4 linked regions of the Homo sapiens genome follow. The protein of the gene in region 2 interacts with the protein of the main gene of each other region in a pairwise test. Each region holds a gene or a part of one and is shown on either strand. Other genes may lie near its edges.

Region 1 (2,833 bases), on a different chromosome or scaffold from region 2:
AACCCCTGACCACAGCTGTTCCTACAGTGGGAAGGGCCTGCTCATCAGGGGCTGTGGCTCCTGGTCCCGCTGCACCAGGGAGGTGGGGTCTTACCGGGATCAATAGGCAGGCAGTCACTTTCTCTTCATAGGAATCTTGTCGATTGGCCTGGCTGCTGCCTACTACAGCGGAGGTAAAGCACCCCCCGCCCCACCCCCCCATGACTGTCTCAGCTGTTTGGAAAACAGAGAAAAGAAGGAAAAACTGTCATTTGTGACTGTCCATGGGGCGGCCTTTAGGATCGGCACCTCTGCCCCTTGATTGCTGGCGGGCACCGCGCCCTCCATGCGCTGCTGTTCTTCCGCACGCCCATCCTGCCCAGCGCTCAGCCCACATTTCACTTCTTTTTTTTTTTTTTTTGAGACGGAGTCTCGCTCTGTCACCCAGGCTGGAGTGCAGTGGCGGGATCTCGGCTCACTGCAAGCTCCGCCTCCCGGGTTCACGCCATTCTCCTGCCTCAGCCTCCCAAGTAGCTGGGACTACAGGCGCCCGCCACTACGCCCGGCTAATTTTTTGTATTTTTAGTAGAGACGGGGTTTCACCGTTTTAGCCGGGATGGTCTCGATCTCCTGACCTCGTGATCCGCCCGCCTCGGCCTCCCAAAGTGCTGGGATTACAGGCGTGAGCCACTGCGCCCGGCCACATTTCACTTCTTAAGTCTTCTGTGTTTTTGGGTCATCAAATATTCCCGGAGAGATGCTCTTGAGGATCTAAGATCCAGCTGTGGGATGAGGTGTACTTCCCACCCTGCCACAATCACTGGGCCTGCCCAGACGGGCAGAGGCCCTGTGCGCCCCACCTGCCTCTCTCACGTGGACTCTGGGGGTCAGAGCTGGGTGGGGTGTGCCGCGTGTGGGTCCTGAGTGGCCAGGGCAGGGTCAGCAGCACAGGAAGCTGCCCAGGGGGTCCTTGCAAGCGTGGGCTCTGGCCAGCGTCTGGGGGAGGCTGTGCTAGGCGGGGCCTCCCGTGGGCATGTCCCTGGAGCTCACAGGCTGGCGCCCTATGCCCATCTCCAGATAGCCTGGGCTGGAAGCTCTTCTACGTCACAGGCTGCCTGTTTGTGGCTGTGCAGAACTTGGAGGACTGGGAGGTAAGGCCGGCTCGGGTGCGGGACAGAGTCCAGGGCTGTTCAGCTCCTGGGTTTTTTGCAATGGGAATGAAAGGAGGAGGAAGGGCCCTGGGTGGCCTAGCGCCTCCCCGTCCTGAAGCGTTGGTCCCTGCTTGGAGGTCTCCGTTCATCAGGACATGGCCCCTGCACTCATCTGGGACCGTTCTTGGCCAAGGAATTCCCCGAAGGCATTTTTCTCTTAGAAGCTCTCCATGACTATCTTCACCAAAGTGCTTTCTTCCCAGAGTTGCCACAATGGGATGCGAGTCAGCTTTCCCCGTGGCCGGCCCTCCCACCTCGGAGCCCCTCATGAGTCCTTTCAGCCTGGCCCAGTGCTGCCCTCTGACCTCCATGCCCTCGTTTGCTGGTTCCACTGCCTCCCTGCACTTGTTTTGCCTGCAGGGTGGAGCAAGCGCCTGCTGCACCTGCCCACCTCTCCATTTCCCAACAGGAGTCGGGTTGGCTGCCGATATCCGGCTCTGACAGAGCAGCACCTGTGGCTTCAGGGGTTTGGGTTCTGACTGGGAGGGTCCCCAGCCCCCCTTCTTGAGTGTCCACCCTGGTGAGGGTGGGGGTGAGGCCCCAGCGGCCACGGGGCCCCCGTTCCTGGAGGTTCATGGTGGTCAGTGCATGTCGGTTTCCAGGAAGCCATCTTCGACAAGAGCACAGGGAAGGTTGTTTTGAAGACGTTCAGCCTCTACAAGAAGCTGCTGACTCTTTTCAGAGCTGGCCACGACCAGGGTGAGTCGTGGGGAGCGTGGGGACATGGGACACGGCCACAGAGGCGGCGCACTTGGGCGTCTGGGTGACTCACGGGGCCTAGAGGGGGGCCTGGAAGTGCCTTTGGTCCAAGCTCACCTGCTTGGTGACCAGGGTTGTGTCCTGCCCGCTGGAAGCAGGATCCCACGGATACGCCCCACCTGCTCACCTGCTCAGCAGGGTCCTAGAGCCTCCTGGGTTCTTTAGAGGTTTGGCCCCTGGGGAGAGTGGGAGGAGCAGGGGTCTGAGGAGCAGGGGTCTGGCAGAGCAGGGGTCTGAGGAGCAGGGGTCTGGCCCACCCGGGCTCGGGCAGCCTCTGTTTAGCTGCATTCTCCCGTCTGCCTGGCAGCCACTTGTCCGCAGGTGCAGTCTGGCCCCAGCGGCAGGTCACAGGACGGGGCAGGGAGAGCCATGGCAGCCCGTGGGCGTTCTGGAGTGGGGCCACCTGGCTTCTTGCGGGCCTTGGCGCTGCTCCAGCTTTCCTGTGGGTTCTACTGGGCCTGCAGTAGGGGCTGGATGGTCCGAGGAACTCCCCACCCTTGAGCCTGGGCACTGGCCCAGCTGTGGTCAGTACCAGTTTCCTGTAGATGCTGCCGCACAGACAGACAGAGGCCCCGGGGTCCGGCCGCCCATGCATAGCCCCAGAGGGGACAGATTCTGGCGACCAGAGTTGCTGGGCAGTCTTGGGTTTAGTGCCGCAATGCTGCACTTCTGACAGGCTGCTTCCTGGATCCCTGCAGGGACCTGGCCAGGGCATTGGCCCCAGGTCACCTGTGGCTTTGGGGAGAGCAGTTGCAGGGCTGGCCTGGGCTGTGGGAGGCAGCTGTGCCGTTTTCTGACAGCCATTGGGACCGCCCCAGTACCCGAAGAGGTGGCTGCCCTGAGTTGCCACGGGAAACTGCAGGGTGGCCCTGGCTCAGCAGCCA
Region 2 (3,487 bases):
TTGGCCAGGCTGGTCTCAAACTCCTGACCTTGTGATCTGCCTGCCTCGGCCTCCCAAAGTGCTGGGATTACAGGCGTGAGCCACCGCACCTGGCCACATATGCTAATTTTTAGAGACATTGAATATAGTCAAAAGCAAAACAAGAAGATACAAAAAAAATGACTGATTATGGCAAGCTTCACTATGACTTATCATTACCTATCAGTAACATAACCTTGATAAATCATTTGAGTTTGAACACTAAAATTTCTTCCAAAACCATGTGCATTCTGCCGCAGTTATTACTACCATATTAGATTCCCCCATAAACAGGAAGGAAGGTCCAAATAAGCTCAGTGGAATAAGAAAAATTAGAAGGAATCGTGAGTTTTGTTTTGTTAATGTGGCAGGTTTCTCCATGTGCCTGGTGGGCAGATGCAGAAATGCCTTCTCCATTTTAGACGGTAGAGCTGGTCCTTACTTTGGACACAAACAGACAACATAATTTAGAGAAACTAGAATTGCCTTAGTTATCATGTTTAGTTTGGGGAGTAAGTACATATGCCCCTTCTGAATTTTGGAATTTCATTTGATCCGCTTGCTCTTTCCTTTTTTTTTTTTTTTTTTTTTTTTTGAGAGAGAGAGGGTCTGGCTGTGTTGCCTAGGCCAGAGTACAGTGGCACAATCATGGCTTACTATTACAGCCTTGCTGCCAGCCTCAAGCGATCCTCCCATCTCAGCTTCCTGAGTAGCTGGGAGTATGTACACGCACCACCACGCCTGGCTAATATTTTGATTTTTTTTTTACACCATGCCTGGCTAATATTCTGATTTTTTTTTTTTTTTTTTTTGTAAAGACAAGGTCTCATGTTGCCCATGCTGGTCTTGAACTCCTGGGCCCAAGCAATCCTCCTGCCTTGGCCTCCCAAAGTGCTAGGATTACAGTCATGAGCCACTGTCCCTAGCCGTCTGTGACTTTTTACCAGATTAACTTGCTTGATTCTCCTTGTTCTTTTTGATTTTGCTCCTGTGAACTTTGGTTCAGTAGCTGATTTAGTCACATTCATGTAGTGTTAAAAAGACTTTGTCATCATGTGAGGTTTTTCTTTTTCAGTAATGACCATCCCAAAGTTGGGGCCTCACTTTACTCACTCACACTTCATACTGATACATAGTTAAGACTCTTATTGAGAGGAGGACAAAGGTCTAAAGAGGAAGGCAGGTCTGTTTTTCCAGTTGGGGGCACACCATGCTCTCTCTGTTGAGGGGTAGCAAGCTGTAGCTCGAGGGCAGTGTGAAAGTGAGCCTTCAAGAGGTACAAAGAAAAAATGAAAGGTCAGTGGAGAAAATGTGGTATTTATAGCAACAAAAGAAATCTCCTTGCGAACTTCATTGAGCTTATGTCTAAAGATAGCAGTAGGGAGACCAGGGAGAAGAAAAGTTTGTAAAAGAAGTAAAATCAAGACACAAAGGTTTCCTGGCCCTTCTGTCCCCATCCTAGGCCATTCGTTTCCTCCAGTGTCACATGTAACCTTGTAGGTTAAAAAAAAAATGCATTTTTAAAGAGGAAAAAATAAATAAAATGTAACAGGAGAAAACAAGGCATTTGTACTTTTGCCACTGATTGCATTCCGAATAGTGAGCTCCTTGAGGTTGACCTGCTGCCTGACTGTGCCTGTCCTGTCATTGCAGGATGATGTGGGCAGCAGGGACCGTGGCTGCCATGTCCAGCATCACGTTTCCGGCAATCAGTGCCCTCGTCTCTCGGAATGCAGAGTCAGATCAGCAAGGTGAGGTCACTGCCCCCCACTTGTTTTTCTCCTTCAACGGGAGACCTCCCTGCTAGAAGCAGGAGCAGCTCTGAGTTCTCCCCATCAACAGCAGGAGCCGACAGCCATATGGCCCCTTTTATCATACCTATTTACTTTGGCAGATAGGAACATTCTATTTTCCTCTCTGCTTTGATCTTACACTTATATTTTTTAAAGCTAGACTTAGCAGTTCAGATTGCTAACAATTAGAAATAGAACTATTCATTTTCCCTTTTCAGTTTTGATACATCTTTTCTTCTTTAGTGTCACAATTAAGCAGACTATAATCACATTTTAACAGATGTCTATTAAATAATGAAAAACCAGTTAACCACGAGTTACTTAATTACTTTATTCACTAATTATTTGGAATAACTCAAAGTCTTTGAGCTTAATTTAGAAAATAGTTTGAGAGTAGTAAGAAAAAGTCTGTGTGGTTGTTGATAGATGTTGAGTGAGAGATGAAATTAAAATTAAGACTGCTATGTGGAAAATAGCATTCTACCATCTAGATCCATATCCCATCCTTCCCATGCCTCTGCTTCCCTTCCTGTCCTGTCTTGTCCTCCCTCCATCCCTTCTTCCCTCTTTTCCCACCCTTCCTCCCCCCACCCCCCACCTCCTACCCCTTACAGGGTCTCACTGTCACCCAGGCTGGAGTGTAGTGGTACAATCTTGGCTCCCTGCAGCCTCCGTCTCCTGGGCTCAAGTGATCTCCCAGTCACCCTCCCAAGTACCAGGGACTAGAGACGCACACTACCATGCCCAGCTAATTTTTTGTATTTTTAGTGGAGATGGGGTTTCGCCATGTTGCCCAGCCTGGTCTCGAACTCCTGGGTTCAGTCTGCCTGCCTCGGCCTCTCAAAGTGCTGAGATTACAGGTGTGAGCCCCCATGCCTGGACTGCTTTCCTTTCAAGCAGTTCCCATGGCTAGATTTAATCTCTTTCCTTCTCTATCTCCTAATGGCTCACCTTATTGTATTCAGGAAGAAGTAGACAATTTTAGAGGGAGAAAAATTTTTTAATGCCTAAGAGCCCTTTTTTTTAAAAGTTTTAGTAAAAAACTATATTGGAAAGGATGGTTTATTCATTGCATTTTTTTTTTCTATATCAGAAGTTAGGTATCTTACTCAGATTCATTGTTAAATATTGTCCCTTGAAGACCACACATTCTGTATGTCACTCCTGGCTACAGTAACTCAGTTGGTTTGCATCCTTAGGGAGGTGCTGTGTCTGAAGTGAAGATGTGATGACCCATCCGTGGAGGACTGTCACTGCCTTGGCATCTGACAGACACCGTCCTGTCATTTGGGGCATGGATTTTCTTTTGACTTTTTATACTTATTCATGTCAATATACATGTTTCTGAATGTCAGCATATAAAAGTTTTGGAACACATTGTATTAGGCTGAATTATATACTACCATTTTTGATTTACAGAAACATTCATTTCATACAGTTCAAGCTAACTTTTTACTTGCTATGTTAGAAAGCAGAGATATTTAGGAATTTGGCACTTCTGGGTTTTTCAGTGTAGGTCTCTAGGGAGATAGGCTGGAATACACCTGTGAAGATGAAGTCTGCCTACTGGGGACTGGTCTGTATTCCTGACACCAGGGCTGCCAGAGGTGAAGGGCAAGTTTTTGTTGTGAAAGCACCAGTAAATGACCAGAGCAGGGAAATCTCAGTTGACAGAA
Region 3 (3,485 bases), on a different chromosome or scaffold from region 2:
GGTTGAAATTTTTTGAAAACTGCAATCAATGATCAAAGAATGATCTAGGTAAACATCGATTCCTTGTGGCAACATTTTAATATTTTCAAAGACAAGGTACAACTGGTAGAAAAAAAATACCCTCATGCATCTTTTTCTTCTAATTGTGGTAAAATATATGACATAACATTGGCCATTTTAGCCATTTTTCCTTTTATTTTTAGTTGACACATAATTGTACTTATTTATAGGATACAAAGTGATATTTCAATACATGCATATAATGTGTAATGATCAAACCAGGGTAATTAGCATATCCGTCACCTCAAACATTTATCATTTGTATTGGGAACATTCAAAATCCTCTCTTCTAGCCTTTTAAAAGTATACAATAAATTGTAGTTAACCATATTCACCTTACAGTGCTACAACACCAGAAGTCATTCCTCCTATCTATAATTTTGCATCCATTAGCCAATCTCTCTCCATCCTCCCCTCTCCCTAATCATTACCAGCCTCTAATATTAATATCTGCAACACTACTCTCTACTTCCATGTGCTCAACTTTTTTAGCTCCCATATATAAATAGGAACATGTGGTAATCTTTCTGTGCCTGACATTTCACATAACATAATGTCCTCCAGGCTATCCATGTTGTTGCAAAGGACAGAATTTCATTATTTTTATGGGTGAATAGTATTCCATTGTGTGTGTGTGTGTATATATATATATATATATTCCATTGTGTGTTATGTATGTATAGTATTCCATTGTGTGCATATATATGTATATATGTGTGTACATATATATATACATAATATATATTCTTCTGCACATGGAAATCCAGTTTCTCCAGCATGATTTATTGAAGAGGGTATCCTTTCCCCAGTGTATGTTCTTGGTGCTTTTATAAAAAATCAGGTGACCTCAGATCAGACCCAACTACATCATACCTTCTTTCGAAATGTGCAAGAAACCTACTAGAAATTCTTATTGTTAGAGTTTCAGATTTATGTCCTGGTTTATACTGCCACATTCATTCTTGGAGGTGAGTACATTTCGATCTTGGTCCGGCTGCGCAGAGAGTCAAAGCAGGAAAATCACAGATTCTTCCCAGCAGTCTACAGCCTACACAGCGGCATTTGGTGCGATGGGATGGAACATGCTGTATCTCTATTCCATGTGGGGGTAAAGTGGGTGGCCTGAAATTTCCTGTGTCTGCCTGCATGATGCAAAGCTCACAGTTCAGAAGCTTAAGGACACACTTCATATCATCCCATCTGTTCTGGTTCAGTGCATAAGAATCTAAGTCTCTGAGGAAGGTAGCATAGTGTGCAGTTCACTGGACCAAAAGCTTTGGCTGCACCTCTTCTGGAAAGCCTGGCCATGGGGCTCTTCATGATCATTGCAATTCTGCTGTTCCAGAAACCCACAGGTAAACCAAACCAGAAGCTCACTCAAATCAACAGTGGGATGGAGCATTTTCAGGAGCCAAAGGGAACTTCATAATCCACACTAAAGGGAAATAGAGCCCCCAAAGATGGCTAAAGTTTATCCAACATCATCAGAAATTTCCTCTTTCTGGAGCCTTATTCCATGTTACTATCCTTAAAGAGGAGTACTCACTGAGCTAAAAAGAGGTCATAATTTCTTCTGGGAAAGATGTGTTGTTATAGAAAGGAATGATGCCAATATCTAGGGATACCTTTATGTCTTTGGATATGGTTTTTACTCTGATGCTCAGCTATATTTCCTTTTACTCAAATATATATATGTGTGTGTGTGTGTGTGTGTGTGTGTGTGTGCATGAATAGAGGAAGAAGCAAATTTTGGAGTTAGGTTTAAGAAACATGCCTTCAATATCTACTAGTTTGTCAACTTTAAGTAGTGAAGACTCTAGGAGCCTCAGTTTCCTCATCTATGGAGATAATGACACCTGGTTAACAGGGGTTTTATTAAATGATATAACCTATGTGAAGCTTGGCACATACTGAGAACTCAAAAATTAGAGTTTCCTTTCCTCTTTCAAAACCAGATTTCTTACATGTGTCCCTTATTATAAGAATAGTAATGGCCTATTCCTGACCCTCTACATTCCTAAGACCCAATAGACTACTACCTTACTGGATAACATGAAAGTCATTCTTGACCCTGATAGTGGGTTTGAACTCAGGAGAACAGTTTGATTCAGACATAAACACATAGTAACAATACATTGTTCTCTGGGCATCAGAGGAGGTGCAGTAGAAGGTAGTGCTCTGGGAGCATTCAGGATGCAGGCAGATTTGCTGAGGTTCCTATGTAGAGCATAGTTCCATAGCCTAGAATCAAGGGTTCAGCTCCTTTATTTTCTCAGATAAGATCTTATGTTCTTGGCAGAGTCTATCAGATGTTAAGGGAGGCCTAAAACCTCACAGGACCTAAATATAAGTGATCCAGTTAAATACAAACACTGAGGTTGACCTTGTCGGAAAATCCTCTTCAGAATATATGAGGGTCTGCCTTGTGGATACCCCATACCCCTAATTCCTACAAGCCTCCTCTGTCTTCCCCAAAACCAACGTGCCTTCAGTCTCAAACACTGATATTGTTCTATTGCTCCTTTCTGTGTATAGTAACCGAACAACTTAAGAAGTGCTGGAATAACTATGTACAAGGACATTGCAGGAAAATCTGCAGAGTAAATGAAGTGCCTGAGGCACTATGTGAAAATGGGAGATACTGTTGCCTCAATATCAAGGAACTGGAAGCATGTAAAAAAATTACAAAGCCACCTCGTCCAAAGCCAGCAACACTTGCACTGACTCTTCAAGACTATGTTACAATAATAGAAAATTTCCCAAGCCTGAAGACACAGTCTACATAAATCAAATACAATTTCGTTTTCACTTGCTTCTCAACCTAGTCTAATAAACTAAGGTGATGAGATATACATCTTCTTCCTTTTGGTTTCTTGATCCTTAAAATGACCTTCGAGCATATTCTAATAAAGTGCATTGCCAGTTTTCTGTCTCATTTTGTTCTTTAACCAGGGGTTGAACACTCATTATATACTAGGTAATGAATTGATAAGAACTCAGAACCTCTCCTTGAAAAGGGGATATGACAAGTACACTAAAAAAAAAAAGTCCTATAGTGTGGAAGTCTGGAATAAGAAACTCAGAAACACTGACATGTAATTTAGGAGAGGGAAAGGTGAAGCAAATATTCAGGGGAAATTCATGAGTAAGTTTAGGAATAAAGCAGTGTCTTGTAGTAAATAAGTAAATAGTAAAGCAGTAAATAAGTAGGATTTCCATGGATGAGGTTTGGTAGGGAAGGCAATTTGAGTGAACAGAATGGGAGGAAATTGGAAAAGACAGAACATTTCAAGACACTATACATGCACTTTGTTTGGATGAAGAACAGAGCACTCAAAGTTGAACTATGGGGGAAGTCTGATTTCCTAAGCTCCTGTGTACCAGCAGTGAACTGGGAAGACGGAGATAAATAAGATTCCACTGTT
Region 4 (2,586 bases), on a different chromosome or scaffold from region 2:
TTCCCCAAGGTTACACAACCAGCACGTGGTGGGGCTGTGATTCAAACCAGGGTATCTGGGACTCCACACAGCTCTTCACTACCAGGCAGTATTGCCCCCACTGCCTGTCTCTGGGGATGGTCTCTGGGAGAATATTTCAGAGTCCATCGAAATTTTCAAATATGAAATAAATATGTCTGCATGTGTGTGGATGACCAGAAATGTCAGATGAACTATTGGGCTGGACTGATAAAGAAGCATTTCTATGATAATCAACTGTAGTTGGAGCATCTACTGGTGCAGGCAGACAACCCAAATACAAAAGGAAAAGGTGGAAATGAACGCCCAGGCGTTCAAATCTCTATTCTTAACCACTTATGCTAAAGGCAAGAAGATTCCAGTTCCCAAGGGGAAGTTGGTTAAACTTAAGTAAGATTATAACACTTGGTCTCACAGGTTTAGAAGAGAACGCTCAGTCCCGGCAGGAGTCCACGCGGAGGCTCATCCTTGTTGGGAGAACAGGGGCCGGGAAGAGCGCCACTGGGAACAGCATCCTGGGCCAGAGACGGTTCTTCTCCAGGCTGGGGGCCACGTCTGTGACCAGGGCCTGCACCACGGGCAGCCGCAGGTGGGACAAGTGCCACGTGGAAGTCGTGGACACTCCGGACATTTTCAGCTCCCAAGTGTCCAAGACAGATCCTGGCTGTGAGGAGAGAGGTCACTGCTACCTGCTCTCGGCCCCCGGACCCCACGCGCTGCTCCTGGTGACCCAGTTGGGTCGGTTCACCGCCCAGGACCAGCAGGCGGTGAGGCAGGTGAGGGACATGTTCGGGGAGGACGTCCTAAAATGGATGGTCATCGTCTTCACCAGGAAGGAGGACCTGGCCGGGGGCTCCCTGCACGATTACGTGAGCAACACAGAGAACCGGGCCTTGCGCGAGCTGGTGGCCGAGTGCGGGGGCCGGGTCTGTGCCTTTGATAACCGGGCCACCGGCCGGGAGCAGGAAGCCCAGGTGGAGCAGCTGCTGGGGATGGTCGAGGGCTTGGTGCTGGAGCACAAGGGCGCCCATTACTCCAACGAGGTGTATGAGCTGGCGCAGGTGCTGCGCTGGGCAGGCCCTGAGGAGCGGCTCCGGCGGGTGGCGGAGCGCGTGGCAGCCAGGGTGCAGAGGAGGCCATGGGGCGCCTGGCTGTCGGCCCGGCTGTGGAAGTGGCTGAAGTCCCCCAGGAGCTGGAGGCTGGGCCTGGCCCTGCTGCTGGGGGGCGCGCTCCTGTTCTGGGTGCTGCTCCACAGGCGGTGGTCGGAGGCCGTTGCGGAGGTCGGGCCTGACTGACAGCGCAGGTCCTAAAACTGAAGGCAACTTGGTTAAGGGAGGCTGAATTCTTGGAGCTGAAGGGAAAACTTCATTCCAACGGAAGGAATCCTGTAGTTTCAGGCATAGTTTTAATGACACAGAAAACTTTGCTGCATCACCTTTGCAACTTTGCCAAAGCTCAGAGTTCACTTTTTAAGTTTTTAACTCATTTTAAATGATGTGTATGCAGAGTTTTAAAATAAATTCGTCTAACAATAACTTCCTTTGGTAGTTTTGGTAGTCTAATGTCAAGTAGCTTGTAGTGGGGACAAACGCATGGCACAGGGAAAACAAGTGCCATTATTTTCGAGCTTTTTAAAAAATTTAGACTGCCCCTCCTTGATAATTTTCTAGTTCTTATACATGGGTAGATAGGTTCCTTTGTGATCCTTGTAGACTTTTAGCATCAATAAAAGAAATGTGGGGGTTACACACGTGAATGTTACTTCTGAGACATCAGTTTATAGTACAATGATTTACTACCAAAAAGATGAATGTAACTGTACTGTTACAAAGTGGAAAATAACAGTTTCCACTTTTCTAGAACATATTATGGTTCATGGCATTCCAAAATGAAGTAAGGGCCGGGCGAGGTGGCTCACGCCTGTAATCCCAACACTTTGGGAGGTCGAGGCAGGTGGATCACCTGAGGTCAGGAGTTCGAGACCAGCCTGACCAACATGGCGAAACCCCATCTCTACTAAAAATACAAAAATTAGCCAGGCGTGATAGCACTCGCCTGTAATCCCAGCCATTCAGGAGGCTGAGGCGGGAGAATCACTTGATGCAGTGAGCCGAGATCGTGCCACTGCACTCCAGGCTGGGTGACAAAGCAAGAATCTGTCTCAAAAAAAAAAAAAGAAAAGAAAAGAAAAAGAAAAAGAGTAGGATATTGGGAAAATAACATATAATATCTTCTATATGGTTATTCATATTTTTATCACACACACACACACACACACACACACACACAGTCTGTATCTCGAGCTCCTCTCTGGTTATGGAGAAGAGGCAGAGCACCAGGTGCATAGGCTGAGACTGCAGACACCTGAGCATCCTATGCTGTGAGGCGAAAGCATCCGGTTTTTTCGGGATGGGCCTGTCCAGGAAGGTTCTCGAATGCCACGTGATTAGAAAATTTGCCGCTGACTGGTTGTGCGAATCAAACAATAGGATTTCCTTATTTCTATTTCTGAGCATAATGAGAACCCTTTAAGGGAACTCATTGTCTTTAAATCAGCCAGCCTCTAGT

The links. Proteins that work in one complex are often made in the same cells at the same time.
Region 1: the proteins of SLC71A2 (region 2) and CYBC1 interact in binary tests that used the Homo sapiens proteins (3 or more experiments, as listed by UniProt).
Region 3: the proteins of SLC71A2 (region 2) and DEFB127 interact in binary tests that used the Homo sapiens proteins (3 or more experiments, as listed by UniProt).
Region 4: the proteins of SLC71A2 (region 2) and GIMAP1 interact in binary tests that used the Homo sapiens proteins (3 or more experiments, as listed by UniProt).

The regions. Positions count from the first base shown.
Region 1 is NC_000017.11:82,444,920-82,447,752, reverse strand, and holds part of CYBC1 (cytochrome b-245 chaperone 1), read left to right. Parts: intron 1-131; coding exon 132-173; intron 174-1,056; coding exon 1,057-1,130; intron 1,131-1,792; coding exon 1,793-1,889; intron 1,890-2,833. UniProt on the Homo sapiens protein: Functions as a chaperone necessary for a stable expression of the CYBA and CYBB subunits of the cytochrome b-245 heterodimer. Controls the phagocyte respiratory burst and is essential for innate immunity.
Region 2 is NC_000009.12:94,454,569-94,458,055, forward strand, and holds part of SLC71A2 (hippocampus abundant transcript-like protein 1), read left to right. Parts: intron 1-1,671; coding exon 1,672-1,769; intron 1,770-3,487.
Region 3 is NC_000020.11:156,179-159,663, forward strand, and holds DEFB127 (beta-defensin 127 preproprotein), read left to right. Parts: upstream 1-1,275; 5' UTR 1,276-1,366; coding exon 1,367-1,415; intron 1,416-2,595; coding exon 2,596-2,846; 3' UTR 2,847-2,985; downstream 2,986-3,485. UniProt on the Homo sapiens protein: Has antibacterial activity.
Region 4 is NC_000007.14:150,719,613-150,722,198, forward strand, and holds part of GIMAP1 (GTPase IMAP family member 1), read left to right. Parts: intron 1-435; coding exon 436-1,313; 3' UTR 1,314-2,586. Other genes in the region: GIMAP1-GIMAP5 protein, read left to right, coding at 436-794. UniProt on the Homo sapiens protein: May regulate lymphocyte survival. Required for normal levels of mature T-lymphocytes and mature B-cells.